Homo sapiens: one gene and its partners. The protein of the gene in region 2 interacts with the protein of the main gene of each other region in a pairwise test. Each region holds a gene or a part of one and is shown on either strand. Other genes may lie near its edges.

The links.
Region 1: the proteins of PKN1 (region 2) and C2orf15 interact in binary tests that used the Homo sapiens proteins (3 or more experiments, as listed by UniProt).
Region 3: the proteins of PKN1 (region 2) and MIER1 interact in binary tests that used the Homo sapiens proteins (3 or more experiments, as listed by UniProt).
Region 4: the proteins of PKN1 (region 2) and ADAMTSL4 interact in binary tests that used the Homo sapiens proteins (3 or more experiments, as listed by UniProt).

Annotation. Positions count from the first base shown.
Region 1 is NC_000002.12:99,137,252-99,144,729, reverse strand, and holds the start of C2orf15 (uncharacterized protein C2orf15), read right to left. Parts: upstream 3,024-7,478; 5' UTR 2,793-3,023; intron 2,446-2,792; 5' UTR 2,329-2,445; intron 1-2,328. Other genes in the region: TSGA10 (testis-specific gene 10 protein), read left to right, coding at 3,591-3,662.
Region 2 is NC_000019.10:14,436,294-14,443,316, reverse strand, and holds part of PKN1 (serine/threonine-protein kinase N1), read right to left. Parts: intron 3,041-7,023; exon of another isoform or gene 3,027-3,040; coding exon of another isoform or gene 2,988-3,026; intron 2,175-2,987; coding exon 1,874-2,174; intron 1-1,873. UniProt on the Homo sapiens protein: PKC-related serine/threonine-protein kinase involved in various processes such as regulation of the intermediate filaments of the actin cytoskeleton, cell migration, tumor cell invasion and transcription regulation.
Region 3 is NC_000001.11:66,921,161-66,928,012, reverse strand, and holds the start of MIER1 (mesoderm induction early response protein 1), read right to left. Parts: upstream 3,024-6,852; 5' UTR 2,985-3,023; coding exon 2,918-2,984; intron 2,681-2,917; exon of another isoform or gene 2,479-2,680; intron 1,872-2,478; coding exon 1,771-1,871; intron 1,680-1,770; exon of another isoform or gene 1,641-1,679; intron 1-1,640. Other genes in the region: DNAI4 (dynein axonemal intermediate chain 4), read left to right, coding at 3,182-3,351. UniProt on the Homo sapiens protein: Transcriptional repressor regulating the expression of a number of genes including SP1 target genes. Probably functions through recruitment of HDAC1 a histone deacetylase involved in chromatin silencing.
Region 4 is NC_000001.11:150,545,222-150,552,430, reverse strand, and holds the start of ADAMTSL4 (ADAMTS-like protein 4 isoform 1 precursor), read right to left. Parts: upstream 3,024-7,209; 5' UTR 2,932-3,023; intron 2,610-2,931; 5' UTR 2,536-2,609; exon of another isoform or gene 2,155-2,535; intron 2,142-2,154; coding exon of another isoform or gene 1,371-2,141; exon of another isoform or gene 1,155-1,370; coding exon of another isoform or gene 1,140-1,154; exon of another isoform or gene 227-1,139; coding exon of another isoform or gene 143-226; coding exon 123-142; intron 1-122. Other genes in the region: uncharacterized protein LOC124904417, read right to left, coding at 1,371-2,141. UniProt on the Homo sapiens protein: Positive regulation of apoptosis. May facilitate FBN1 microfibril biogenesis.

The DNA of each region.
Region 1 (7,478 bases), on a different chromosome or scaffold from region 2:
CTGCTGCTAGTCATGATGGAGTAACAGAGACCAGACTTATCCTCATGCTTTCAGCATCTTTTTTTTTTTTTTTTTTTTTTGAGACAGAGTTTTGTTCTTGTCCCCCAGGCTGGAGGGCGATGGCACGATCTCGGCTTACCGCAACCTCTGCCTCCCGGGTTCAAGCAAGTCTCCTGCCTCAGCCTCCCGAGTAGCTGGATTACAGGCATGAGCCACCGTGCCCCGCCTGCTTTCAGCATCAAAACACAAAACACATGAAGCAATGGCTTTTAGATATTGGACAACAGGCAGTTCGGGAGAGTGATCCTTGAGAAACAGGAAATAAAGTGAGCCCTATGAATGGACATTGCCTGGAACTTTCAGGCCTCGGCATAAGGAGGAAACTCTCTGATTTAAAAAACGGAACACAGGCCGGGCGCGGTGGCTCATGCCTGTAATCCCAGCACTTTGGGAGGCCGAGGCGGGCAGGTCATGAGGTCAGGAGATCGAGATCATCCTGGCTAACACAGTGAAACCCCGTCTCTACTAAAAATACAAAAAAATTAGCCGGGCGTGGTGGTGGGCGCCTGTAGTCCCAGCTGCTCGGGAGGCTGAGGCAGGAGAATGGCGTGAAGCCGCGAGGCAGAGCTTCCAGTGAGCGGAGATCGCGCCACTGCACTCCAGCCTGGGAGACAAAGCGAGACTCCATCTCAAAAAAACAAACAAAAAAAAGGAACACAGCATCAGTGAGCTGTGGAACAAGATCAAGTGGCTTAACACATATGGAATTGGAGTCCCAGATTTTTTTTTGAGGGGATCAGGAAGAGGACAGTGAAAACAAAACAAAAAATAGTAATAACAGAGGTTTTTGTAGTGAAGCTTTTGAAATGATGGAAAAATTAAGGGACTAGAAAACCAAGACCTTAGAAGGTGTCTGTCACGAGAGAGCAAGCACAGGGTACTATATAAGGCTTAGCCTGGGCCAGGCACAGTGGCTCATGCATATAATCCCAGCACTTGGGATGCTGAGGTGGGTGGATCACTTGAGTCCAGGAGTTCAAGACCAGCCTGGGCAACATGGTGAAACCGCATCTCTACAAAAACATACAAAAATTAGCTGGGCATGGTGGCACATACCTGTGGTCCCAGCTACTCAAGGGGCTAAGGCAGGAGAACTGCTTCAACCTGAAAGGTGGAGGGTGCAGTGAGCTGAGATCATGCCAACGCACTCCAGCCTGGGTACAGGGCAACAGAGTGAGACTCTGTCTTAAAAAAAAGGAAAAAAAAAAAAAGTCTGGGCGCAGTGGCTCACACCTGTAATCCCAGCACTTTGGGAGGCTGAGGCGGGTGGATCATGAGGTCAGGAGATCAAGACCATCCTGGCTAACACAGTGAAACCCTGTCTCTACTAAAAATACAAAAAACAAAAAACAAACAAAAAAAAAGCTGGGCGTAGTAGTGGGCGCCTGTAGTCCTAGCTACTTGGGAGGCTGAGGCAGGAGAATGGCATGAACCCGGGAGGCGGAGGTTGCAGTGAGCCGAGATCGTGCCACTGCACTCCAGCCTGGGCGACAGAGTGAGACTCTGTCTCAAAAAAAAAAAAAAAAAAAAAAAAAAGGTTTAGTTGGGGCAGGGTGGGACACTCACTACCCCTTGGGTTTCCACAGAGGGAAGGAAATTTTTACTTTCTCAGGTTAGGGGAGAAAGTCAACAGTTCTTGATAGGAAAAAAAAGGAAAATCTTTTCACCCTCTTTTGGCCTTAAAATGATCATTTCCTTATATTCTTTCCAAATAATCTTCAGTACCGTCTAGGTGGCATACATAAGTGCTTAAACTTTTCTTATTCTTTCTATAAGGGAAGTACTTTCCTACTTCCTATATTAATAATCTCCCCACCCCCGAAGTCTTCAACTCCAGCTGATAGTTTTAAACTTAGAACATTCTTTCCTATTTGTTTTTAATAATGCTAGATAATGTATTCAAAATAATCTTAGTATCTGAAGAGGAAATGAGATTATACATTATTCCCTCTAACATAACTTCTCAGTTTGTTATTTTGTGCATTTAAAAAATTACATTTCCGAGGATATGTGCTCCTTGTGTCCTCTAACCTCTTAATCTAAAATAACAGGGACACTTAATTTTTTTTGGTATCTAATTATACTTACAAAGTATATGATATCTGAAAATAAATGCGACAAAATATGAGACCATGTAATAACACGATGAAAAGACATTGGAAAAACATGGCATTTATATTAAATGTATTTTTATGACTAAATTTGTTCTACACAAAAGTTGTTTATCCCTGCCAATGATATCTTGTGGGGGGAAAAATGAGTACTCACCTGGCGAAAACAGGAATTGTTAGTCTCCTCAAACGAGAGCTTACTCTTGAAATACACAGCGTTCTACCATATCAAGGTCATCAGAGAATTGCTGTAAAAACCTAGTGTCTATGTCATCTGCAGGAAAAGGAGATAAAGTCACCATTATCATCCAGAAGCTCTTGAGTTATTTAAGAAGGGACATGGTAGGTATTAAGAAAAATTAAGAAGACTTTTTTCCCCCCCATTCTGGGCTCCAAAAAATTGGTAGAAGAATGCAGCGCTCATTCTTTTTCACTAAAAAGCTCATTTGTCACTTTAAGGTGAGGGGATTTGGAAAAGGACTGGCATGTGGAGAAGGAATATCGGTCAGGAATCTGGACTTTGTTGCTAGATCTGCCACTTCCTGATTCAGCCCTGATCGTGCAGAGCTGACCAAGGCCGTGGTCCCCAGGCTCCCCTGACTCCAGGCTGCCCACGCTCACCGGGACAGGCCGGCTCGCTCCCTGCAGGCTGCAGCGGGAGGGCTGGACCTGGAAGCCTCTCTTAAAACGGGCCCTGGCTGCAGCAGGAGCTGCGCCCGAAAGCAGCTCTGAGAGTAACCGGTTCACCGAACATGGGTCCAGAATGATGCCCAAGCCCTGGGAAAAGTGGCACAAAGCCACCGCCGCGAAGCAGCAGGTGTTTCAAGCTGAGGGAAGGCGGGGCTGCGAGAGACAGCCTTGCGCATGCGCGTTCCATCCAGGTGCGGCAGCCTCAGGCAGAGATTAAGAAATGAGTCGTGGAAAAGGGGGCTAGCGGCTGGTTACTAGGAGACGGGACGCTCGGCTCGGGCGTCTAGGCGCTGCGTGGGCGTGCGCCTGCGCGGCGCGGATGGGCCAGGAAGGGGTCCCTCCTAGGTGCCCTGTAAGGCAGGCAGGTAGACGTACGCGTCGCTCCGTGCGTAGGAGCGCGCGCACGGCTTGTAGACCCCGCGAGAAGGAAGGTCGAGCCAGGTACGCGTGCGCACCGGGCCTGGGGGCGAGCGGGACGGAAGCAAAGCTGGGGCGCCGGGGAGGTGGAAGACGAGCCCCACTCCGGTACAGAGCGTGAGGGCGGGGCCACGGCGGCACTGGCTGGCGCTAACCGCCCCCTCCTCCTTCCCGCGGGCTCCGTCCTTCCTCCGATCCGCCGGGGCGGGGCCAGGACGATTTGGGGGTGGGAAGGGAGGAGAAAGGGGCGGAGGATGGAGAGTGGGCGGTTCTTGTATCCCCCGCTGAGGCCGAGAGCTGACAGTCGCGGGGATGAGCTCTGGGCAGGACGGCGGGCCGAGGAGCCCGGGGAGGGACCCGGAGCTCCAGGTAGAAGCTGCGGAGGTGCGCGGGGTGGGGAGAGTGCTGCTACTGGACTGGAAGGTCTCTGAGAAGGCGGCTGCAAGCGGGCAGGAGTGGCGGGTGCGGGGCCGTGGCGGGCGGAGTTGGGCGCTAGCAGCGGGAGCGGCTGTGAGGGGCAGCGGCGGGCACAGCTGCCGGCCGGAAGCTCGGCAGCACGAGTTGCCCCTGTTTCTTGGGAGGTTAGGTTTGAGCCCAGTTCCTATGGTCACTGCTTCGCGTCCTCCCGCAGCTCTCCGCTTGGTTGTTGGGGAGACTGTTCAGTTTAGAAACGCTCTGGAAGCTCTGGTGGAGCCGAGGAATTTGGAAGTCACAGATTTGGGAGTTCAGCCTGACTCCCGATCGCTCATTTCTGAGCCTCTTTCTAGACTTGGGGTGGTGAAAGGCTGAGATTACATAGGCATTTGCATGAAAATCTCAGATAATTTTAGTAAAAATTATACACAGTAAAGGCAGGGAAAGCTGGCTTTTGTTGAAAAACTATTTGAGACTTAAATTGGATAACTAGGTGATCATGGACTTGATACCTAAAAACTCACAGAAATATGGTTTTTTTTCACTTTTTTTTTTTCGCAGCTTCGGGAAAGTTTGCATAGATTATAGTGTCCCAACGTTTTCCTTCTTCCATTCCAGGACCTTATATCCTAGGAGATTTCCTTGTTTAAAATTTTCTGTACTGGTGTTCAGCATTTCAAGTATACTTTGTTTACGTGTAAGGACATAAGTAGAATAACAATAGGTTTGTAAGTAGAAAAAAACAGGTTAGTTATAGAAGTAGGATGTCGCATTCGAATCTGCTTCCAGGATAAGACAGATTCTTGTTTGTATTTTAATTGATTAATGAGCCAAACTCTTCAGTCTTAATTAGTGGGAAATAACTAGGACGGTACATTAATTAAATATTAATTTTAAATCCTAAACTTTGGCATTATTTAATGGCAGCTTCCACAATATCTCGCGTACTGTTTACCTTCTGAAGAAAAATCACTGCCTGTAGCCCAGAATATAATCAGGTGTAGAGATTCTCTGGGAGATCTTTTCTGTCTTCTTTTTGAGTTGCTTAGACTAGTTTGTTTAGGACGATTTGGTTTTGAAGTCCTCCATACACAGAGGCAGTTAGAGGTATTACTATTTATCACCTTTTCAGATTACATATTTCTTTCCCTCCCCAGAGATAGCCACTCTCCTGACTTCTAAGATAGCCACTTCCTTGATTTTCCTTAATGTTTCACATCATTGTATGTGAACATGCACATTACAGTTTGGCTTGTTTTTGAACTTCGAATGGAATTGTACTAAGTATTCATTTACATCTTGCTTCTTTACTCAACATTTTTTTTAAGATTAATCTTTATTGTTGCTCGCAGTATTTAGTTTGCTGATTGTTTCCCAAAATATTTATCCACTTATTTTTATTATATAAAATACTCTCTCAGAATTATTCATAAATCTTGTATGGTTTTCCACATCCTTCTGTTAGTGAGGCAGTTCCTTTCTACTTCAATGTCTATAAGTCTACACTTTTGGAGACAATATTTTTAAAAAGAAAAACCCACCTCAACTGTAGTAAGCTTTTGTGGAACCAGATTTCAGAATTCCATTGAAGTACTCCAGTATTTTCCATTCTATCAAAAAATCAATAATTTGTTGAATACATATTATGTGCTTCATATTTTGCTCAACACCGATGATACTTTTTATTATATAATCTTAGCTCCTGTTTCACTGAAAAATTAAAATTCAACCAGACAGAAACTTCCTCAGATTTCCATGACACTTACCTTTTTTTTTTGAGACATGATCTCACTGTCGCTCAGGCTGGAGTGCAGTGGTGCGATCATGACTCATTGCAGCCTTGACCTCCCGGGCTCAAGTGATTCTCCTATCTCAGCCTCCCAAGTAGCTGGGACCACAGGTGGATGCCACTATGCCTGGCTAATTTATTTTTTAATTTTTGTAGATACAGGAACTCACTATGTTGTCCAGGCTGGTCTCAAATTCCTGGGCTCAAGTGATCCTCTGGCCTTGGCCTCCCAAAGTGTTGGGATTATTGGGATTACAAGTGTCTAAATCTTCACCTGTCCTTGCTTTTGTCTTTCTTGTGTCGGGGCAATACATCTTTATCTGGGTTTCCTCTTATTACCTCAGCTGTCTTTCTCCATCAATTAACATTAACTCATGCCTTAGGAATCTTCATTGTTTCTGTACTGTAGGGCTTCTTCACCTGGAGTCCAAGGACCTTATAGAGTCTTAAATCCCCTGAAATTGTTTGTAAAGGTGTATTTGCATTTTTCTGAGGAGAGGATGCAGGACTTTTAATTCTGAAAGAGGATCCTTATGTAAAGAGAATTAAGGAACAAGTTTTTCTCTTCCCATAATGACGTTTCCACAACCTTGGTTGTCTTCCACCTTTGTTGTACCTCTCTTCCTCTCACAATCATGCTTCCTAAAAGAAGTTTACATTTTCCATTTCTTTTTCTTTACTATTCATTCATTAGTCCCCTTCAGACTTGTTTTCACCCACCATTGAAACTGCTTTGTTCGAATCATTAAATTTTCTTATTTTGAAAATGTTTTATTGCGTTTCACCTTTGTGCTGGGCACTTTTAAGGCATTAGGGATAAAACAGAGACAAGACAAAAGCCTAGAGCTCTTGAATTTTATATTCTAGTATGGGGAGATAGTAAACAAGTCAGCAAATGATATAATTTCAAGTAGTGATAAGTGCAAATAGCTTATCACTTATTTGAGAGAGTGACTAGGAGAGAGGCTACTTTAGGTAAGAAGTCAGGGAAGACCCTCTGACATTTCAGCCAAAGAGCTGAGGGTGAGAAGATAGCCATGTGAAAGGCTGGGTAGAAAGTGTTCCTGAGAGAGGAAAAGCAAGAGCAGAGGACCTGAAGTCAAATGTTACTGGCAAATATCTTAGTCCATTCAGGCTGCTATAATGAAATAACATATAAGCAACAGAAATTTAATTCTTACAGTTCTGGAGACTGGGAATTCTAAGATCCAAGTTGCCAGCAGAATCAATGTCTGAGGTTTTTTGGTTCATAGATGGTACCTTCAGACTCTGTCCTCATATGTTAGAAGGGGCAAGGGAGCTCTCTGGGGCCTATTATATACAGGCAACTCATCATGGCTGTGCCTTTTTTTTTTTTTTTTTGACATGGAGTCTCACTCTGTTGCCCAGGCTGGAGTGCAGTGACACGATCTCGGCTCACTGCAATAAATCCCTTCTAATTTATTAGCAAATGTTGTTGGTTCAAATATATATCCTAAATCCATCCACTTCTCTATATTTTTGTTACCACCTCCCTGGTCCAAGTCACCATCATCTCCCACCTAAAATACTGCAACCATTCCCTGCTATCTTTCCGCTTCCACTGTTGCTCCCTACAACCTATTCTCCACACTGATATCATATCAATCACTTCAAAATAATGAGATCCTGTGGGAGGGGAGAAGGGAGAGGGAAAAAAAAATGAAAAAGAAAATTATAATAAGATGATCCTGGCTCAAAAATACACCAATGGCTTCCCACTGCAATTAAAAATAAAATCCAAACTTTGTAAGGCCTTACATGATTTGGCCCTTGTCTTCACTTACAAGATCTAGTACTCCCTTCTTTGTTCGCCCAATAGCTTTTTCTTTCTGTTCCTCTAATGTGTGGCTTCAGTCCGAATTTCTGTGTCCTCACAAAATTTTTAGGTTGAAATTCTAACCCCTAAGGTGATCACATTAAGAGGCAGAGTCTTGGCCGGGTGCAGTGGCTCACGCCTGTAATCCCAACAGTTTGGG
Region 2 (7,023 bases):
CAGCAGTCTACCCACCCACCCTCCCAGGGAAACCCCTCGGGGCTGGGGCAGAACCCAGGATGAATGAGTGCAGGCGAGCACCCAGGTGTGTTAGTGTGTCCTTGGTGCTGGGTCCACTGCATTTGAGAGGCCCATGAGTAACTACGTACATGGCTTGTGTGAGCCTATGGGTGTGGGAGTGGTGCCATCTGTGAGCTGCAGGGTGTTGGCATGGCTGAGTGTGTGTTTCCCTAGGTGTTAGTGTAACTCTGTGAGACGCCATGTGTTAGAATGACTGTCTGAGATTGTGGGTGTTGGGAGATGCTCTGCGTACATCTCTGACTGTTGCTACAACTGTGAGTTCAGATCTCCAGGTTGGTATGACTGAGTCTCCGGGTGTTGGCACATCCGGATGCATGTGTCTGCATGAGTCTCTGGAGAGTGGTGTGATGCTTGAGGGGACCCTGGGTGCAGAAATGACTGAGGCCGGGCGCAGTGGCTCACACCTATAATCCCAGCACTTTGGGAGGCCGAGGCAGGCGGATTGCTTGAAGTCAGGAGTTAAATACCACCCTGGCCAACATGGCAAAATCCCGTCTCTACTAAAAATGCAAAAATTAGCCAGGCGTGGTGGCTCATGCCTATAATCCCAGCTACTTGGGAGGCTGGAGCAGGAAAATCACTTGAACCTGGGAGGTGGAGGTTGCAGTGAGCCGAGATCGTGCTATTGCACTTCAGCCTGGGTGACAAGAGCAAAACTCTGTCCTTCCCCACCAAAAAAAATTCAAGCTGCTGAGTGAGGTGGCTCACACCTGTAATCCCAGCATTCTGGGAGGCACATCACCTGAGGTGGGTGGATCAGTTGAGGTCAGGAGTTTGAGACCAGCCTGGCCAACATGGTGAAATCCCATCTCTACTAAAAATACAAACATTAGCCGGGCGTGGTGGTGCAAGCCTATAGTCCCAGCTACTCAGGAGGCTGAGGCAGGAGAATCACTTGAACCTGGGAGGTGGAGGTTGCAGTGAGCTGAGATTGCACCACTGCTCTCCAGCCTGGGTGATGGAGCAAGACTCCATCTCAAAAAGAAAAAAAATGTTAAAACCAATAAAAATGTTTTAAATTAAAAAACAGGCTGGGTGCAATGGCTCACGCCTGTATTCCCAGCATTTGGGAGGCCAAAGCAGGAGGATCACTTGAAGCCAGGAGTTCTAGCCAAGCCCTGGCGGCATACCAAGACCCTTTCTCTACAAAAAAAAAAAAAAAAAAAAAAATTAAATTAGCCAGGCATGGTGGTGTATGCCTTTAGTCCCAGCTACTTGGAAGGCTGAGGTGGGAGGATTGTTTGAGCCCAGGAAATTGAGGCTATAGTGAGCTTTGATCACACCACTGTACTCCAGCCTGGGTGACAAGGCAAGATCCTGTCTCCAAACAAAAACAAAAATAAACAGTCTTTGGTTATCATCCATGTAACTGTGGGAGTTTCTGGGTATTCGTGTGACAGTGTGCACATCCTTGAGTGTTGCCTGGGGTGTTGGCGTGGCTGTGTCTGGAGGTATTCGTGTGACAGTATGTGCACCCTTGGGTGTTGCCTGGGTGTTGGTGTGGCTGTTTTTTTAGGTGTTTGTGTGACTGCATGCACATCCTTGAATGTTGCCTGGGTGTTGGCGTGGCTGTGTCTAGAGGTATTCATGTGACAGCATGCACGGTCTTGAGTGTTACCGGGTGCTGGTGTGGCTGTATGCACCTCTCTGGGTGTTGGTGGCTACGGGGGTCATGGCATGCATCTCCCTGGGGGTCCGTGGAGATGGGTTAACCTGGCTCTGGAGACCATGGGTGAGCCAGTGAGCAGTGGAATCCCTGGAGTCCCGCATCCCCAGAGGCATCCCAGCTCACCGTGGGTGGCCGCCGGGTCGGGAAGCACCACGTGGGCGTGCAGCTCCTGCAGCTGCTGGTGCAGCAGGTCGAGGCGGCGCGAGGAGCCCCGCAGCAGCAGCTCTACGGGGCCCAGGCTGCGGCCCAGGTCAGTGGTGGCCCGCCGCAGGTTCTCAGCACCCTCCTTCAGCTTCAGCTCCTTGCGGATTTCCCGCCGCAGCCGCTCCCGCTCCAGCTCCAGCTGCTGCTGTACCCCGGGGGCCGCCAGGTCTGCCCCGGCCAGGCCCAGCTGCTCTAGCAGGGACCAGCTGCGAGGCTCACTCTGCGGAGGACAGAACAGGGTCAGTGGAGCTAGGAGAACTCCAGGTGCAGACCACATGCAGCCAGCCTGGCCCAGCCTCTGCCCTGGACTGGGGCTCCCAAGACAGGGCCTGCTCTACCTCCTCTGACTCCCAAAACTGGAAGGTGACGAGGCCTTGCCACTGCTTCCTGACCTCCCCAAACTGGGAGGTCTCAAGAGCAGGGCCTTGTCACCCCCACCACCACAGCGTCCCCCACATTAAGGGGGTCTCAAGAATAAGATCTGTCTCCCTTCTGCTGCCTCCCCCAAACTAGAGGGTCCCAAGGGAAGATTCCTTCTTTTCTCTGCTGCTCCCCGAAACTAAGAGGGCCCAAGGGCAGGCCCTGTCTTCTCTCTGCTGTACCCCTAAAACTACAGGGTCCTGAGGACAGGCCCCATCTTCCCTCACTTGTACCCTGAAACTATGGCATCCCGAGGGCAGGCCTCATCTTTCCTTGGCTACACCCCCAAAACTAGGGTATCCCAAGGGCAGGCCAAGTCTTCTCTCTGCTGTACCCCCAAACTATGGGGTCTTGAAGACCCTCATCTGCTCTTCTCCTATGTTCAACAACTGGGACCCTAAAGAACAGAGCCCGGTCTCCTTCCTTCTGTCTCTCCCCAATCTGGGAGCCCCGAAGGGCACTGGATACTCTCATCCTCCAGAGAGAGAACTCTGAGGCCAGTGCCCCATCTCCTCTCCTTGTTCCCAAACTGAGAAGTACCCGGGGAAGGACTACTGGCCTGTGCCACTTGGGGCCCCCTTCTGCCTGCCCCCACAGGGACCCTGGACCCCACCTCCAGCTCCTGCTCCGAGGGGTTATTGGCCTCCGCCATCCTGGGTCCGGGCTGAGGGCCCCGCCCTCTTCCTGAACCTCAGCCCCACCAGGGCCTCTCGGCTGCCACTTCCTCTTTCCTGTCAACTCCCAGCACCCCTCGCGCGGGGCCAACTCCAGGGCATCTAAGGGACCTCCTGTTCCTCTAGATGAAACCCAGGGACAGTCCTTGCTCCCTGTCCCTAGAGAATGTCCAAGGTGCAGGCAGTTTGTACATTCACACACTCATGGTGTATCCATGAGGGGACGCAGGCTCCGAGGGCTGACTTGAGTGTGCACTAACTTTCAAATACATATGTGGATATGCACAGAACACAGGCTCACAAATGTTTGCACGCTTTCTTTTTCTTTCCTTTTTTTTTTTTTTTTTTTTTTTTTGAGACAGAGTCTCCCTTTGTGTTGCCCAGGCTGGAGTGCACTGGTGTGATCTTGGCTCACTGCAACCTCCGCCTCCCAGGTTCAAGCAATTCTCTTGCCTCAGCCTCCCAAGTAGCTGGGATTACAGGCATGTGCCGCCACGCCCAGCTAATTTTTGTATTTTTAGTAGAGACAGGGTTTCACCATGTTGGCCAGGCTGGTCTCGAACTCCTGACCTCAGGTGATCCGCCCCCCTCAGCCTCCCAAAGTGCTGGGATTACTGGACGTGAGCTACCGCGCCTGGCCTGTGTTTGCACAGTTATGGCTGCAGGTGTGTGCCTGCAACACAGGCTCACATGTGTGCACACTCCCATGCCTGTGTGTGTGGATGAAACAAAGATCCACACACAGGTGCACACTTCTACACCTGCAGGTGTGTGCCTGGAAAATGGGCTCACAGTGTACCCATTCCCATGCCTACCACATATGCACTTATTTGCAAACACATACAAGTGCTTATGAGCTTCCCTCTAGAACCCATACAAGACACACTCCCACCTGCCCGAGAGGGCATGGCCCACATGCTCATGCGTGTGCACATGCTCACACACATATGCACGCTCCCCGAGGCCCCTGCAGCACATCCATGCTCCCACAGACCTCCAGCCCTGCGACTACCTGCATATGTCCCTCCAGACTCTCCCAGCCACCCCTTGTCCCCGGCTTCCCCTTCAGGGTCAGAACAGCCACTTCTTCAGAGGTGAGGCCCCTTTCCTGCAGACGGGCCCTCCCAACTTCCTGCTTCCTCTCAGTCCAGTCGCCAACTGTTATTGACCATAGCTGAGAGGCCCGGGGTCCCAGCCAGCCCAGTGGCACCTCCCTCAGGCCAACACAATTAGGGGACAGCACTGGGGGACTGGGATAAGAATTTCCAAAACCAGGCCGGGCACGGTGCCTCACGCCTATAATCCCAGCATTTTGGGAGGCCGAGGTGGGTGGATCACCTGAGGTCGGGAGGTCGAGACCAGCCTGACCAACATGGAGAAACCCCGTCTCTACTGAAAAAAAAAAAAAAATACAAAATTAGTCGGGTTTGGTGGTGCATGCCTATAATCCCAGCTACTTGGGAGGCTGAAGCAGAATCACTTGAACCCAGGAGGCAGAGGTCGAGGTGAGCCAAGATCGTGCCATTGCACGCCAGAGCGAAACTCCGTCTCAAAAAAAAAAAGAATTTCCAATTTCCAAAATCACGCCGGGCGTGGTGGCTCACATCTGTAATCCCAGCACTTTGGGAGGATGAGCGAGGCAGATCACGTGAGGTCAGGAGTTCAAGACCAGCCTGGCCAACATGATGAAACCCCGTCTCTACTAAAAATATGAAAATTAGCCAGGCATGGTGGCACGTGCTTGTAATCCCAGCTGCTTGGGAGGCTAAGCATGAGAATCGCTTGAACCCAGGAGGTGGAGATTGCAGTGAGTCGAGATCACACCACTGCACTCCAGCCTGGGCGACAGAGTGAGACTCTATCTCAAAAAAAAAAAAAAAAAAAAAGAATGCCCCAAATCAGCAGCCTACAAAACCACTTGCTAAGCACACAGTAACATTCAAGAACAACTTATGATGGCATTACTTCCTGATAAGCTCATCATAAGTTGCAAATATCATAAGTCAAAAATGCATTTAATATATCTTACCTACCAAACATCATAGCTCACCCTGGCCTACCTTAAATGTGCTCAGAACACTTACCCAAGCCTATAGTTGGGCAAAAACGTCTAACACAAAGCTATTTTACAGTAAAGTTGAATATCTCATGTAACTTTTTTTCTTTTTTTTGAGACAGGGTCTTACTCTGTTGCCCAGGCTGGAGTGCAGTGGTGTGATCATGGCTCCCTGCAGTGTCTACCTCCTGGGCTCAAACAGTCCTCCCAGCTCAGCCTCCCGAGCAGCTGGGACTACAGGCATACGCCACCACACCTGGCTAATTTTTGTATTTTTCATAGACATGGGGTCTCACTATGTTGCCCAGGCTGATCTCGAACTCTTGGCCTCAAGTAATCCTCCTGCCTCGGCCTCCAAAAGTGCTGGGATTACAGGTGTGAGTCACTGCCCCGTGGCCAGGGCCTTGATTTAAAACAAGAGCACCCAGATTCCAAATGCTGGCTAGGAAATGGCCCCCTGGGGTTATCTCCTTCAGCTGGGAGCATCCATTTCACAGACAAGGAATGTTATCCTTGGCTCGTGACTGATCTCAAGCGCAGCTGCCCCCAGGGAGGAATGCCACAGACCAAGTGTATCACTCCCACCATCTTCCCAACCCTCACTACAAATCTTGAGCAGCTGCCAAGAACTCCCCACTTCACAGGTGAGGAAACTGAGGCTCAAGGAAGTCACAGTAGTATGTTTTGTTCGTTGGTTTGAGACAGAGTCTTGCTCTTTCGCCTAGGCTGGAGTGCAGTGGTGCAATCTCGGCTCACTGCAATCTCCACCTTCCGGGTTCAAGCAATTCCCCTGCCTCAGCCTCCTGAGTAGTTGGGACTACAGGCACGTGCCACTGCGCCTAGCTAATGTTTTGTATTTTTAGTAGAGACGGGGTTTCACATGTTGGCCAGGCTGGTCTCAAACTCCTGACTTCAAGCAATCAGCCAGCCTCGGCCTCCCAAAGTTCTGGGATTACAAGTGTGAGGCACTGTGCCTGGCCAGTAACAGTTTTCCATTGAGGGGAGATTTTCTCCCCATACCCGGGGACATGCGGCAACATCCGGAGACATTTTTGGTTGTCCTGACTGTGGGTAAGGAGGTGACTTCTATCAGGGTGAGGCCAGGGATGCCACTCAACGCCCTGCAGTGCACAGGACAGCCTCTACTGCAAAGAATGACCCAGCCCTGAATGTCAGTAGTGCTAAGGCTGAGAAGCCTACGGTTAAGGGTCATAGATTTGGCCAGGTGTGGTGGTTCACGTCTGTAATCCCAGCGCTTTGGGAGGCTGAGGCAGGAGCAGTGCTTGAGGTCAGGAATTGGAGATAAGTCTGGGCAACACAGCAAGACCTACAAAAATCTCTACAAAAAATAAAAAAGTATTGGCCAGGTGTGGTGGCTCTCTCTGCCTGTGATCCTAGCACTTTAGGAGGCCAAGGCCGGAGGACTGCTTGAGCTCAGGAGTTCGAGACCAGCCTGGGCAATAACGGTGAGACCCCATCTCTACAAAAAATGTAAGAATTAGCCAGGTGTGATGGCATGTGCCTGCAGTCTCAACTACTTGGGAGCCTGAGGTGGGAAGCTGGCTTGAGCCCAGGAGGCAGAGGTTCCAGTGAGCCGAGATCACACCATCACACTCCAGCCTGGCCAACAGAGCCAGGCTTTGTCTCAAAAAAGAAAAAAAGAGGCCAGGCGCGGTGGCTCATGCCTATAATCCCACCACTTTGGGAGGCCGAGGCAGGCAGATCACGAGGTCAGGAGATCTAGACCATCCTGGCTAACAAGGTGAAACCCTGTCTCTACTAAAAACACAAAAAAATCAGCCGGGCATGGTGGCGGGCGTTTGTAGTCCCAGCTACTTGGGAGGCTGAGGCAGGAGAATGGCGTGAACCCAGGAGGCAGAATTTGCAGTAAGCCGAGATCAAGCCACTGCACTCTAGCC
Region 3 (6,852 bases), on a different chromosome or scaffold from region 2:
ATTATTTTATTTTAGTGATACACCTAACTGTAAAATTTTCAGGAGCCACCTTACGGAATGAAAAGTCTTTCTCAAAACGCTTACTTACCCTCTTCAGTATTAAATATATAAAAATTAACTATTCACTAGTTATAGAATTTTAGTGTTGGATGGGACCTTAGAGATCTTTTAGTCAATTCTCTACCCTGTCAAGATAGTAATCTCTCATCATGCTTCTACTACCAGGCTTTCTGCCTATGTTTAAACCCCTCCAGTGACTCACTATATCTCATAAAAAGGCTGCTCTTTTCAAAAAAAGTTCAAATGTTTAAAACATTCTTTCTTTTATTATGCCAGAATCTACCTCCTTGTTGTTTCCATCCATTACCCTTAGTTCTTCAGCACTTTGGATTAATTCAACAGATATCTTCTTTGTATCCAAATGCAAACAGTTAATATTTATACTTGGGTTAACAAAAAAAAATTTATTTTTAAAGCCTATTCATACTAGAAGAGTTGAAAATAGGACATGAGAGAGCTAAAGGCATAAGAAAATGCACCATTAATTGTGTCTGCTTAAAATTATTACACTTTGTTATTTATTAATGTGATATCCAAAACAGTAGTTCTGTTGGAATTGTGTATAAAATTTTTAAACTAAAAAAGTGTGCTGAATTCCAATTTTATGTGAGGTTTGTGATTAATGTCCCAAAACAAAAAACCACTATACAAAGCCTGAATAAATGCCTCTTCAGCTCCTATTCCCCACCTAAAAGCCTCCTTATTTTCAGGCAAAGTAACATTAATTTTTATGACATTAAGCTACTCAAAACTGCTATTATATTGATAAATCATTTGTAAGCAATTTACTGAATCTTCCATTCAAAAGTTATTGAACAATTCTATAGAGGCTATAAGGCGCACGCACACACAAACCCCTCAGTTATTATTATGCTTTTAACAAAAGCATTTAGGAGCACAATCTTACTTCAACCAGTACCTTAAACGAACCAATGAACAAACTTCTTTGGCAATTTACATATACCTAAGAAATATAACCTTTTATTCAGTACCAACACCTGATTCAAATACAAGTAACATATATATATATACTATATAAACCTATCTGTTATGCAATCCAAAAAGGTACCTCTCAAAATGCACCAAGAAAATACTGTACTTATAACAATTTAGACTCTGGGGTTAGCTGACTGAAATAGATTAATACAACACATCCAAAACTAAAAAATTCTATATCTAACAATTTTCAGCGTCCATGAGTCTCTTTTGAGATTAGTTTATAAACTATTTCCTGAAATTTTTATTTAAAAGCAACAGCCTACACCATGTCTTTATGATGTGGTGGTAAAATTTTATGGATAATTACTAATTTGGTTGAAAATACCTACATCTAAAAAACTTAGCCTATTACATTTGGAAGCCCCACATCTATAGTGACAATCAGCATCATCTTTCGTTAGTTTCATTTTTTGTTATTAATGCCACTCTAAAACACTTATATAGGCTTTTGGTTCTTCAAATAACAGTTTTGGATTTTCTTTTCATAATTTTTACAGTTTTATCCAGTGGCCCCATTTTATCAGAATATTACAAACTATGATTATGGTTTTTACATTGATGACATGTTATTTTTATCTCACCCAAATTCTGGAAATTTTTGGCCCATCAGTTCTCAAACACTGGAACATATAAGAAGAGTAATATAATCTTATATTACTTGAGGGAGTTTGGATTTTCCCTCCCTTAATCTCCAAGTGTACCCCTGCCTACCAGCATCACATCCGTCTTGTCTGCATTGAACCTCAACCAGTTGGTTCTTAACCACGTCCGAAACTCAGCCAGGCACTGGGAGAATCGAGCGACCACACCATCTGGATCAAAGGAAAGAGAGCCTCAGTAGCAAGGAGACAGAAACGATGATACAAGCTCACCATCCACCCTGTTTCGCATTTTTAAAAAGATGGTCGGGAATCAGGACAAGGATCCCATGACAATTTTAGAAAAACATTTAATGAGCCTTAAGTCATGCAATTTGTAACTAATGATAAAGGAATAAAAGCGACCCAATAAATAGGTCGCCTCATTCCACCCATAAGTGAAGAAGGTTCAGTCAACTCCGGGTCATCTTGGTGAAGCGGCCTCAATAGCCAAGTCAATCTTGTAATTACATAAGTTCTTCTGCAGAAATGCAGAATTCTAGCGTTGGAGGAAGCTTTAAATAGGGAAAACTGAAGCCCAGAGAGGGATAGTGACTCGCTCAAGGTTACACAGCATGCAGGGACCACAGATAGGCTCCAGGCCAGGGACCTAGCCACTACAAGCTGAAAGAACAAGAGTAAAGAGCGGCGGGCATCTGTCCCAAGGGATCCTCCCACGCGCTAGGAGGACCTCGTTTCCTTACAGTAATACCCTATTCGAGTCTCTCCTCCCTCCCTGACTCCATCCGAAAAGGGCAAGTTGGCCCAGGGCGCTGCTCACCATAAAGGCTGCAGTGCAAGCGAGAGCCTCCCGGGGATGGGACACAAGTGAGGGAAATACAGGAGAAAGAGGCGGAGCCACAGCAGGGTGGTCAGCTTAGCCCCACCCCGACTGGGATCAGGGACCGAAGCGAACGGGGCGAGGCGAACTCACTCCGCAGCGGATTCCCAGCGCGGCGCCACCACCGCGAAGGCAAAAAGGCGGCGCTGGGAGGCAGTCGATGGCCAGAGGGAGGAAGCTGCGCATGCGCCTTTGGCAGCCGGCGGAGAGCAAGCCAGGCGCGTTCTGCGGCAGCCCCTCCCCGGAAGTTAAGGGTCTTCCGGGCGGTACACTGCCGTGGGGGAGGGGAAGGAGAGAAAGGGGACTGAGGACACCTCAGGAGCCCCTCATCCCAAACTGGAATAGAAGGGGAGAGATGGCTTGTGGAGGCTGCACTTACAGCCGCTGCCGCTGCTGCCGCCGCCACCTTCGCTGCTGCCGCCACCGCCTGAAGAAGCCCCATCCATCCGCCTGCAGCCGGGAGACTCAGAGCCTGGGAGGGGCCTGAGGCCCGGGCCGCCCGCCTCCTTCTTCCAGTCGTCGTCCGGAGCTTCCTCCAGCTCCACCAACCCTCTGCCCTCCCCTCCGCCTCCGCCCTCCTCCTCGGCCTCGTGCCGCCAGCCAACCGCGCGGCCGCTTGTTGAGCCAGGGCTCCACCGTCGCCATGACGCCCGGCAAACATTCCGGAGCCTCGGCCCGAGCCGCTAACGGAGGAGCTTGGGGGTACAGGGACTTCAGAGGCGGCCAAAAAAAGGGGTGGTGCACCACTCCCCAGCTGGTCGCCACCATGCCAGTCTCTCCGGCAGGCAGTCACAAGCAGCAGAACTTCGGGTTGTAAGTTCCGGCGCTAAAAACCGTAGTCCATCCCCCTGGGACCCGGAGGGAGCCCTTCTATTAATAGATACCATTTCTGGATTTGGAAAGGGGCCCTACCCTAACTGGGTTCAGTCTGTAGACCTTGAAGCTCCTAGGCCACAATGTCTCCTTTATCGACCTACCGCAGTCTTTAAAAGAATCTCTACTGGGCTGGGCGCGGTGGCTCACACCTGTAATCCCGGCACTTTGGGAGGCCGAGTGGGGTGGATCACCTGAGGTCAGAAGTTAGCGTCCAGGCTGGCCAACATGGTGAAACCCCGTCTGTACTAAAAATACAAAAAGTTAGCCGGACGTGGTGGCACATGCCTGTAATCCCAGCTACTTGGGAGGCTGAGGCAGGAGAATCCCTTGAACCCGGAAGGCGGAGGTTGCAGTAAGCCGAGATCGTGCCGTTGCACTCGAGCCTGAGCAACAGAGCGAGACTCTGTCTAAAAAATAAGATAAAATAAATCTCTATTGCTGTGCTTGCTGTGTGAGAAAAGACCTGGTTTAGAACCATCGTTCTAGCACTTCTAGTTTGTTAAGGCCTGCAGTCTCTCAAGCTTGATGCTTTCATGCTGTGCCCAGACGTTCAAGAGCCTCAGCTTCTGTGAGCCACCAGGCCGAACATTGCTGTGCTCTGTAGTAGAGGTATTTTATTGTCGTCTCGTCAATACCATCTTACTTTAAAACTAATTCCTGCTTCCAACATTCTGTTGTTATGCAGCAGTTGAACAAGACTGTAGAAAAGCACACAGCTGTGTGGACTTGTCTTACTTTAAATGGTTCCTTAGCGCTGCCCGTAATGCTGCCCACTAAGTTCCCCCAAAATTCCCTAAGTAATTTGTTTTCTCTTCCCCTCTCCAATCTCCTCCACCTCAGCTAATCTTTCTTCAGCGGAACTTGTTGAGAGTTCTTGGGAGAGAACCTTGCATTCTCTCTTGAATATGGTACTCACGCTTTTGTCCATCCTACCACTCCATCAAAACAGCTTCTATGAAAGCCAGCAATAGCCATGCAACCAAATACAATGGCTGATCCACAGTTTCATTCTTTTTGAATGAAGCAGTGTCGGTCGGGTTTATCGCTTCTCGATCTTTGAAAAGCTTTATTTGGGTTCTGAGAAACCACTCTTCCTAGTTCTTGTCTTGGTTCATGGTTTCACCTTTCCCAGATCCTTTGCTGGTATCTGTTCCTCACTACCATAACTAAATACAGTCATGCATCGATGGTGATACCTTCTGAGAAATACCTTGTTAGCCAATTTCAGCATTTTGCAAATATCTTCTAGTGTACTTACACAAACGTAGATGTATGGGCTACTATACACCTAGGCTACAATTGTATAGTAGACTGTACACCTAAGCTATAGTAGGCTATACATCTAGGTTTGTGTAAGTACACTAAATGGTGTTTGCATAATGATGAAAATGCATTTGTTGCTTCTAGGCTACCAACCTGCATAGCATGTTACTGTACTGAATACTGTAGGCAATTGTAACACAATGCTAAGTATTTGTGTATGTAAACATAGAAAAGGTAATGTCTTGTGCTTGAATGTTGTGACAACTACAACGTTGTTAGACAATAGGAATTTTTCAGCTCTGCTACCAGATCACCATTGTATATGTGATTCATTGTTGATGATCCAGGACTGTATTGGTATTGCTGGGTTAGTCCATAAACCTCTTCACTCTGATGTCTTTAATATCACCTATAATGATGATTCACAAATGTTAATCTCTGGCTAAGACCTCTCCCAAGAAAACAGATTTTAAGAAAAAACACCTGCACTTATAAGTTAATAAACATCTCAAACCAAATATATAATATTTTCTGTCTTTTCTAATTAACTGCAATCTTTCTCATTTTAGTAAATGGCAAATTCCACTCTTTCACTTACTCAGGGGAAAAACCTTGGGATTACCCTTGACTTCTATCTTATACCTCACTCTATAAGCAAATTTTACCATTTCTACCTGCCAAATAAATCCAGACTACCACTCCCATGTAAATCACTGTGTTACATTGTGATACCCACCTAAATAGTCTCCTTGCCAACACCCTCCAGGTAGTAATCAATGTGGTTCTGCTCAAAACATTTCTCAAGTTTTTTCCATTTCACTCAGTAAAACTCTTTACAGGGCCCCACAGGATCTCACTATAGACTCTTCCTCTTGCCTAATTACATCCCACGTTGTCCCACAACACATCAGACACACTATATTCCCCCTTTGGAGCCTGTGCATATGCAGTTTTTTGGAATATTGTGCCCCCAGATAACCTCATGACTCACCTCCTTTAGGTAACTGTGTCAAAGAGTCCTTTACCACCCCATATAAAGTAATAATACTTCACCTTTGGAGCTCTTCAGTCCCTCACCTTTGCTTGAATTTTTCCATAAAATTTATTCCTGCCAGGCACAGTGGCTCATGCCTGTAATTCCACCACTTTATGAGGCTGAAGTGGGCAAATTGCTTGAGCTTGGGAGTTCACAACCAGTGGGCAAATTACTTGAGCTTGGGAGTCCACAACCAGCCTGGGCAACATGGCAAACCCCCATTTCTACAAAACATTGAGCCAGGCGTGGTGGCATGTGCCTGTAGTCCTAGCTACTTTGGAGGCTGAGGTGGGAAGATTACTTGAGACCGGGAAGGTGATGTTGTAGTGATCCGTGATCACTGCCATTGTACTCCAGCCTGGTCGACAGAGTGAGATTCCACCTCAAAAAAAAAAAAAAAAAAATTTCTACAAGTTTATTGTGTACCTGCTTATTCATCCATCTTCACCTAAGGATAGTACTCCAAAAAGGCAGAGATTTTTGTTTTGTTCACTACTGTATCCATTGCCTAGATTGAAGAAGGTGCTGAATAAATATTTGCTGAATGAATGAGTGTTTACTTCAGTAACATTGGTTACTGCTTATCTTGTATGGTTTTTGTTTTCACCTTAAGGTATAGAAATTTTAATGTAAAATTAAATTGAGTTTATTAAATTGAAAAATACAAAAACTGTCCAACTCTCATAGTATGATGTCTAAGAAAAATTCCTTTGGGAGTTTCTTAAATGTTGACAATTTCATAACATCTATTAAGGAAAGAATGGGGTGGGAGACGGGAAGTAGTATAACCTTCACTTTTTGCAGTAGCCATGTTACCTAATTAAAACGAAGTTTCACAGACAAGTTTACAACCTTTTGGTTTGGCCTAATTTGTTATTTCTCATCTTCCTTCTTTTAGGACTTAATCCTGACCTTGGAAAGGATCTCATGAAGCAAATATTTGTCAGTTTTCCACTTTCTCTTTTCCTGTGTTAGATTCTTGCCTTTAGCTTTACAATACTGGACAAGTCTCCCATTGCAATAAAAATAACTGCTGATTGTTCACCTCTTCATCCTATTTCTCTGTCCAGTGCCTTTATATTCCTTACATGTTCTTGTTTCCTTTTGATTCTTATTTAATGTTTTTATCTCTGCTTACA
Region 4 (7,209 bases), on a different chromosome or scaffold from region 2:
GCAGAAGTTACTCATCACTTCCCCTGCCCCTCCCAGTGGTCCCCTTTCCCTCACTTCCAGACACAGAGCCATCCCAGCACCTCCCCTTTTCCTCCCCCCCAACCCGTGGCCCCTTCTCTCACCTGCCAGTCCAGTTCTCCATCGCTCCCCCTCTACTGCCCCAGGGGGAGGCAGGAGCGGACTGGTCACAAAAACTACGCAGGCATCTGGGCGTGGAGGGTGCTCTCTGCAGGGACAGAAGCCTGGTGGTTACCTCTCCAGTGTCCAGAGAGCTTGGGGCTGGGAGGACAGCTCAGAGAATATGGAGGAGGGGGTGAAACTGGTCCATCCCTTTAGGATCCTCAGGGTGGGAGCAGGGAGGATCACTGCCTTGTCCATCTGTAGAGGCTACATGGTCAGGGGCTGACCTCAGCCCTCCAACTAAGGCTCAGTCCCCACCTCTGGGCCCTGTAGGGGCTTCTTAGCTCCTCCCCAAATCCTACCTAGGGACTGTTTCTAAGCCGGCTCAGGCACACACAAAAGGCTTTTTTTTTTTTTTTGAGATGGAGATCTCACTCTGTCATCCAGGCTGGAGGGCAGTGGTGCCACCAAAGCTCATTGCAGCCTCAAACTCACAGGCTCTCCTTCCTCAGCCTCCTGAGTAGGTGGGACTACATGCGTGCACCACCACACCCAGCTAATTTTGGTATTTTTTGGTGGAGATGGGATCCAGCTAAATTGCACAGGCTGGTCTTGAACTCCAGGCCTCAAGCGCTTCTCCTGCCTTGGCCTCCCAAAGTGCTGGGATGACAGGTGTGAGCCACCGCACCCAGCCAGAGGGCTCCTTCTAAAATGGTTGTCATCTGCTCCCACTCCTGCCCTCCCAGAGGTGCCTAGAAAGTAGAGGAGGAAGGCTCCACTGAGGATGCGCCAGACACTCTCTCTGAGGACCCACCAGAAGCCCCTTCCTTGGGTCTTCCAGACACAAGACCTTCCCCAGTCATCTCTCTGTCCTACTTGCCTCCCGGCTTTCTCTTCCCTTCTTAGATAAGCTCTTTAGGGAACATCCAGGCACATCTCATACACTTTTTGGCCAAGGGATAAGCTAAATGGGTTGACGGTTTAATCTCTAGAGAAGAAGCCGGCAATGTAACACCCACTCTGGGTGCCAGCATCTGGAGTTGGTTCAGTGAGGGCTTGTTTCCTGTGCGTCTCTACCAGCTGGGGAAGCGGGAAGGAGAGGTGCAGCCGGGGCTGCCTCATGCCCCAGCCACAGGCCTCTCATTCTGAAGAGCCGGGAAGTCCATCTGAAGTTCAGCTTTGAACACTGGAGAAGTGAGGCTTGGAAGCCACCCCAGCCACCAAGCCTGACTCTCTTTGCCCCCTTCTTCTCACTTTGAGTCCTTCCCACCCCTGCTCCTCATCCCACTCTTAGTTCTGCTTTCCAGGAAAAAAAAAATCTGTTTCTGTTGGATCTGAAAGGCACCCGGGAGAGGAATCCAGGGAGCCCTCGCATTGCTGAGGTGGGCCAGCTCTGGGGCAGAAAATGACCAAGAGAAGGGTAGGAATGTGCCTGGGGGCAGACACTCAGCCCCACTGCCCTCCCTGAGACCTAGGGTTCGGAATTTGAGGGAGGGGTCAGAGTGGCTGAGCCAGAGCGGGCGCCTCAGGGATTGGGGTTGGGGTGGGGGTTGCCGATGGCCACTCCTTCCCCTGGCTGGGCCGGCCACTAAGGTCAGCAACTCCACCCTGACTGAACGGGGGAGGCCAGGATCTCCAGAGAAGGGCCCATGTTCCACCCAAGTCTTCAGGCTCTGCCTGACTCTTGTTACTCCAGCTGAGGGAAGAAGAAATGGGGTGATAGTCACTGCCTGCCCCTTCTCTGATGCCGACCCCTCTTCATGCCCTCTCTGCCTCTGCTTCTCTCTGCCACCGAGATCTCTTCTCGCAGCCCCTCTCCACGGGTCTACCCAGTACACATAATCCCATCCCGAGCTGGGTTTGGCTTTGGCAGTTCCCTGGAGAAGTGAGGGGTGGGGGTGACGTGAGCTCCCGGGGCCCGGGCCAGGCCTGGCTCCCTCTCTGGAAAAGTCCCACCCCACCCTCCCCTGCGCAGCCCGGCAGGGGCCCATGCCCCCTCCTCTGCAGAAACACACGCACATTTATGCTTCTCACCCCTTTCCATGTCCCTCATTTGGTGTCGTTCCCGGCCCAGGACGAGGAAAGGAGAGGTCAGAGGTGGTCACTCTGGTGCCAGAGTAGACCCTGGTCTGGACAAACGCGGGCTCCTCCTGGCCACACCTCTCCACACTGCCCAGTGAAGACCAAGGAACAGAGACCTGCGCAGGGCTCACCCCTTCACCCCCAGGTCTCCCTGCTGGAGAGTGGTTGGACCCTGTGTTTCTGGGCCTAGCCATGGAGAATCCCTGTCCTGAGTCCGAATTCCCGGGCCCTCAGAGCCCTCCACTCCTGGGTCTGGCAGGCCACCCCAACAGGTGTCTTTCTTTTTTGTCAACCTCTTCTGCCATCGGGCTGAGCTGGATCAAGGGCACCCACCTGCGTCCCTCGCGGCGACCCTGTCCTCCAAGTTCAGGAGTGCAGTGGGGGACACACCGTCCGAGAGCACCCTCCTAGAGAGAGGGCAGGAGGCACCGGCCGCGCGGGGAGGTCATGGGTCTGTTTTCCAACTTTACTATGTGACTTAGGAGGAATTTTGGTTCACTCCCCGCCCGGGTGATGGGGCCAGAGTTCCACGGGATCAGACTCCCTCCCCAGGAATTCGACCCCAGGGGCTGGAAGATTGTCCGAGGCCACCGGAGCTGGGTCCGGGGTCGTGGCGGGGTCGCGACCGCACAGCGCAGGGAGAGGGGACGACGCGGGCGCGCGGGGCGGGCGGTCTAACGGGACCCGGGAGAGGGGCGGCCGGGGCCGGGGTCCCGGGGAGGTCTCTACCTGCTCTGCGAGCCCCCGGTGGCCCGTTAACCCTTCTGCGCCCAGGCGCTCTCTCCAGGCAACCTCGCTCCGCGGCGGCCACTGGGGCCCCTGAGCCGCGCTCCGGTCACGGCCGCCTCGGCCGCAACTCCGCCCTCGCGCCCGCCCCCGCCCAGCCCCGCCCGCCACGCGCCCCAGCCCGCGCCCCTCGGCGGCCCCGGGGTGGGGCCGGTCTGCCTCGCAGCCCCACTCGCCAGGACCACCCACCCCGGGCTGCGCGCCGGGCGCCCCCCGACGGCTGCGTGAGCTGAAGCCCGGGCTGGCCCAGCCGGGGTCGGAGGCTGCAGTCGCTCCCGGGCGCTGTCCTCGTGCCCGGCCGAGACTAGGGACTTAAGCAGCCCGGGCTGGCCCAGCCGGGGTCAGAGGCTGCAGTCGCTCCCGGGCGCTGTCCTCGTGCCCGGCTGAGACTAGGGACTTAAGCAACCCGGGCCTCCGAGCCGCTCGGGTGAGCGGTGCGAACACGGCGCGGCGCGGCGCGGCACAGGCGGGGCAGCCTCCAGGGGCGCCTGGAGCGAGGCGGCCTGGGAGAGCCGCTGGTCCGGGAGGGAAGCGCCCTGGACGGAGGTACCCGCGGCCCCCGATCCGCGTGGGTCCAGGCTCTCCCCTCCACGCAGCCTCCCCTGCAAACTCAGTCACTCCTGCCTCTCCCGTGTTGGGCAGTGGTGGTTCAGATTGCTGGGACTTCTATGAGCTTCGGTTTTTTTCCTCAGTAAGGTTTTACACTCGGGACTCAGCGAAAGGACAGCGTGCTGACTTCTGAGTCAGACTGATCTGGATTTGAACCTCAGCTCCAGCTCTTGCCAGCTATGTGGTCTTCGACGAATACTTCCACCCCTGTGTGGTGCAGTTTGCTCATCTGCAAAATGGGACTAATCTAATATATATGATGGGCTTGGATATGTCTCTTTATGCATTTATACATGGAAGAATGCACCCCAAACTCAGTAGTATTGGTGACATCTGGGGAGGGATGCAGGGTTGGGGGAGGACTGAAAAAGGCTTTTGCTTTTTACTCTGCGTTATGTTTATTATTATTATATTATTATTTATTTATTTTTTTTGAGACGGAGTCTCACTCTGTCGTCCAGGCTGGAGTGCAGTGGTGCTATCTTGGCTCACTGCAAGCTCCGCCTCCCAGGTTCACGCCATTCTCCTGCCCTAGCCTCCTGAGTAGCTGGGACTACAGGCGTCTGCCACCACGCCCGGCTAATTTTTTGTATTTTTAGTAGAGACGGGGTTTCATCGTGTTAGCCAGAATGGTCTCGATCTCCTGACCTCGTGATCCGTCCGCCTCGGCCTCCCAAAGTGCTGGGATTACAGGCGTGAGCCACCGCACCCAGCTATGTAATGTTATTTTTGTGAATTTTTTTAACCACAAGAGCAATCCATCTATTAGTTTTATCTTTTTTTTTTCTTTTTTTTTTTGAGATGGAGTTTCACTCTTGTTGCCCAGGCTGGAGTGCAGTGGCGCGATCTCGGCTCACTGCAACCTCCGCCTCCCAGGTTCAAGTGATTCTCCTGCCTCAGCCTCCCAAGTAGCTGGGATTAGAGGCATGCGCCACCATGCCTGGCTTATTTTATATTTTTTAGTAGAGACGGGATTTCTCCATGTTAGTCAGGCTAGCCTCCAACTCCCGACCTCAAGTGATCCTCCTGCCTCGGCCTCCCAAAGTTCTGGGATTATAGGCGTGAGCCACCGCGCCTGGCTATTATTTATTATAAATAATATATGTAAGCTGGGCATGGTGGTGAAAGCCTGTAGTCCTAGCTACTCAGGAGGCTGAGCGGGGAGGATTGCTTGAGCCCAGGAGTTTGAGGCTGCAGTGAACTATGATCGTGCCACTGCACTCCAGCCCCTGCGACAGAGAGAGACCTCGTCTCAAAAAATAAACACATAAATAAATAAAATATGTAAAATGGCTGGCATAGAGTAGACAATAAATGGTCACTGCTATTTTTATATTTTACTTTTTTTTTTTTGAGAAGGAGTCTTGTCCTGTCACCCAGGCTGGAGTGCAATGGCGCCATCTCAGCTCACTGCAACCTCTGCCTCCTGGGTTCAAGCCATTCTCCTGCCTCAGCCTCCTGAGTAGGTGGGATTGCAGGCACGAGCCACCACGCCTGGCTAATTTTTTGTATCTTTAGTAGAGATGGGGTTTCACCATGTTGGCCAGGCTGGTCTCGAACTCCTGACCTCATGATCCGTCCGCCTCAGCCTCCCAAAGTGCTGGGATTACAGACATGAGCCACTGCTCCCGGCCTATATTTTTACTTTCTATTTACTGACGCGTTGTATTTTGTTGGGTCTACTCAGTGTTTTAAAGGTTTTTGTTTGTTTGTTTTTTGTTTTTAAGACAGGCTAGTTTCAAACTCCTGGGCTCAAGAAATCCTCCTTCCTTGGGCTCCTAAAATGCCGGGATTACATGTGTGAGCCACTGGGCCCAACCTAAAGGCACATTTTTTTTTTTTAAATAACTTGTCAATACGTATTTTAAAACCTGGATATTTTAAAATTTCTCTTGAAAAACTAAAACACAAAAATAGAAGCTCTAACAACATTGTCCTGCATCCTCACAAAATATCAGAGGTCTTTGGTTCCCCACCTGTCATTTTTTGGGCGCCTTTTGCACTTGGTGTTGAAGAAGCAGCAAGAAGTCTCTGGCCTCAAGGAGTTGGGTCTGATCAGGCACAGACACGGCAGGTAATGGGGTCATGCGAAGGTTAATACTGGGCTCAGCTGAAGGAGATGTTATCTCTAAGAAGATGATGGATATGAAAACGTAAAATGCTTTCAAAATGTAGGAATTGGGCCGGGCGCGGTGGCTCATGCCTGCAATCCCAGCACCTTCGGAGGCCAAGGCGGGCGGATCATCTGAGGTCAGGAGTTCAAGACCAGCCTAGCCAACATGGCGAAACCCCATCTCTACTAAAAATACAAAAATTAGCCGGGTGTGGTGGTGGGCGTTTGTAATCCCAGCTACTCAGGAGGCTGAGACAGGGAGAATTGCTTGAACCTGGCAGGCGGAGGTTGCATTGAGCTGAGATCATGCCACTGCACTCCAGCTTAGGTGACAGAGCGAGACTCTGCCTCAAAAAAATAAAGAAAAGAAAAGAAAATGTAAGAATTGTGTCCCGAGCTGGGTACAATTGCAGGCACCTGTAGTCCTGGCGATTCGGGAGGCTGAAGTGGGAGGATCACTTGAGGCCAAGAGTTCAAGTCCAGCCTGGGCAACATGGCAAGACCCCATATCTAAAAAAAAAAAAAGAAGAAGAAAAAAGAAAGGAGAAAAAGAATTGTATCATTATTTGAAATTTAACATGCATATTTTTTCTCGGTAAATCACTAAGTTCTTTCAGAATAAAGGACTATTTATGCTACTTTGTATCATCTATACTTTTTCCTATTTTATATTAGAGTTTTGTTTTTTTGATAAGTCACTGAAACAACAACAACAACTTGAAAACACGAAGTACACCACGAAACATGAAGCGGGTCAGATTGACCTGCGCCTCTGGGAGGTGCCTCTCCTCATCCTCCATCTGAGTCCTGAGTTCCTACATGGGTTGAGAAGATAAAAGGTTAATGCCCCTCCCAGAGGGGTGGTTTATCTAGGGACTCCTGGTGACAACCTGGAGACATATTTATAGTGCTAGCTTTGAAGGGGAAGCCCCTTTCCCCAGACCTCAGAGTATGATATAGATGATGAGAAGCCCAGCCTTCCGGGCAGAGGAAGATATTTTGGGCCAGGGACCCTTCAGTCCTGGCCCAGTCACACCTCATCAGCATTCACTTATCTACAGGGAGGGAAGCTGCAGGACAGGAGTGTGGGAGGGGAGCCTGGGAGGAGAGAAAAGGTCTGCCTTTGACATTTGTAACTGCTGAGAACTGAAGGTCAGATACAGTCCTTTCCACTAAGAAATGGCTGCTCACCGAAGAGCTCATGAGATTTGCTACTGCTGTCACCTCTCATGGCTTGGTGGTCTGAAAATATTGTAGAAAGAAAAGAGTTTCCTATGCCTCAGCAACTTGTGAAATACCAGATTAAGTTTGTGGACACTGTCTCCAGGATAAAAAGTTTTTAGGCTGGGTGCGGTGTCTCACACCTGTAATCCCAGCACTTTGGGAGGCTGAGGTGGGTAGATTGCTTAAGCCCAGGAATTTGACACCAGCCTGGGCAACATAGCAAGACCCTGTCTCAAAAATAAACAAATACATAAATAATTTTTAAAAAGAAGTTT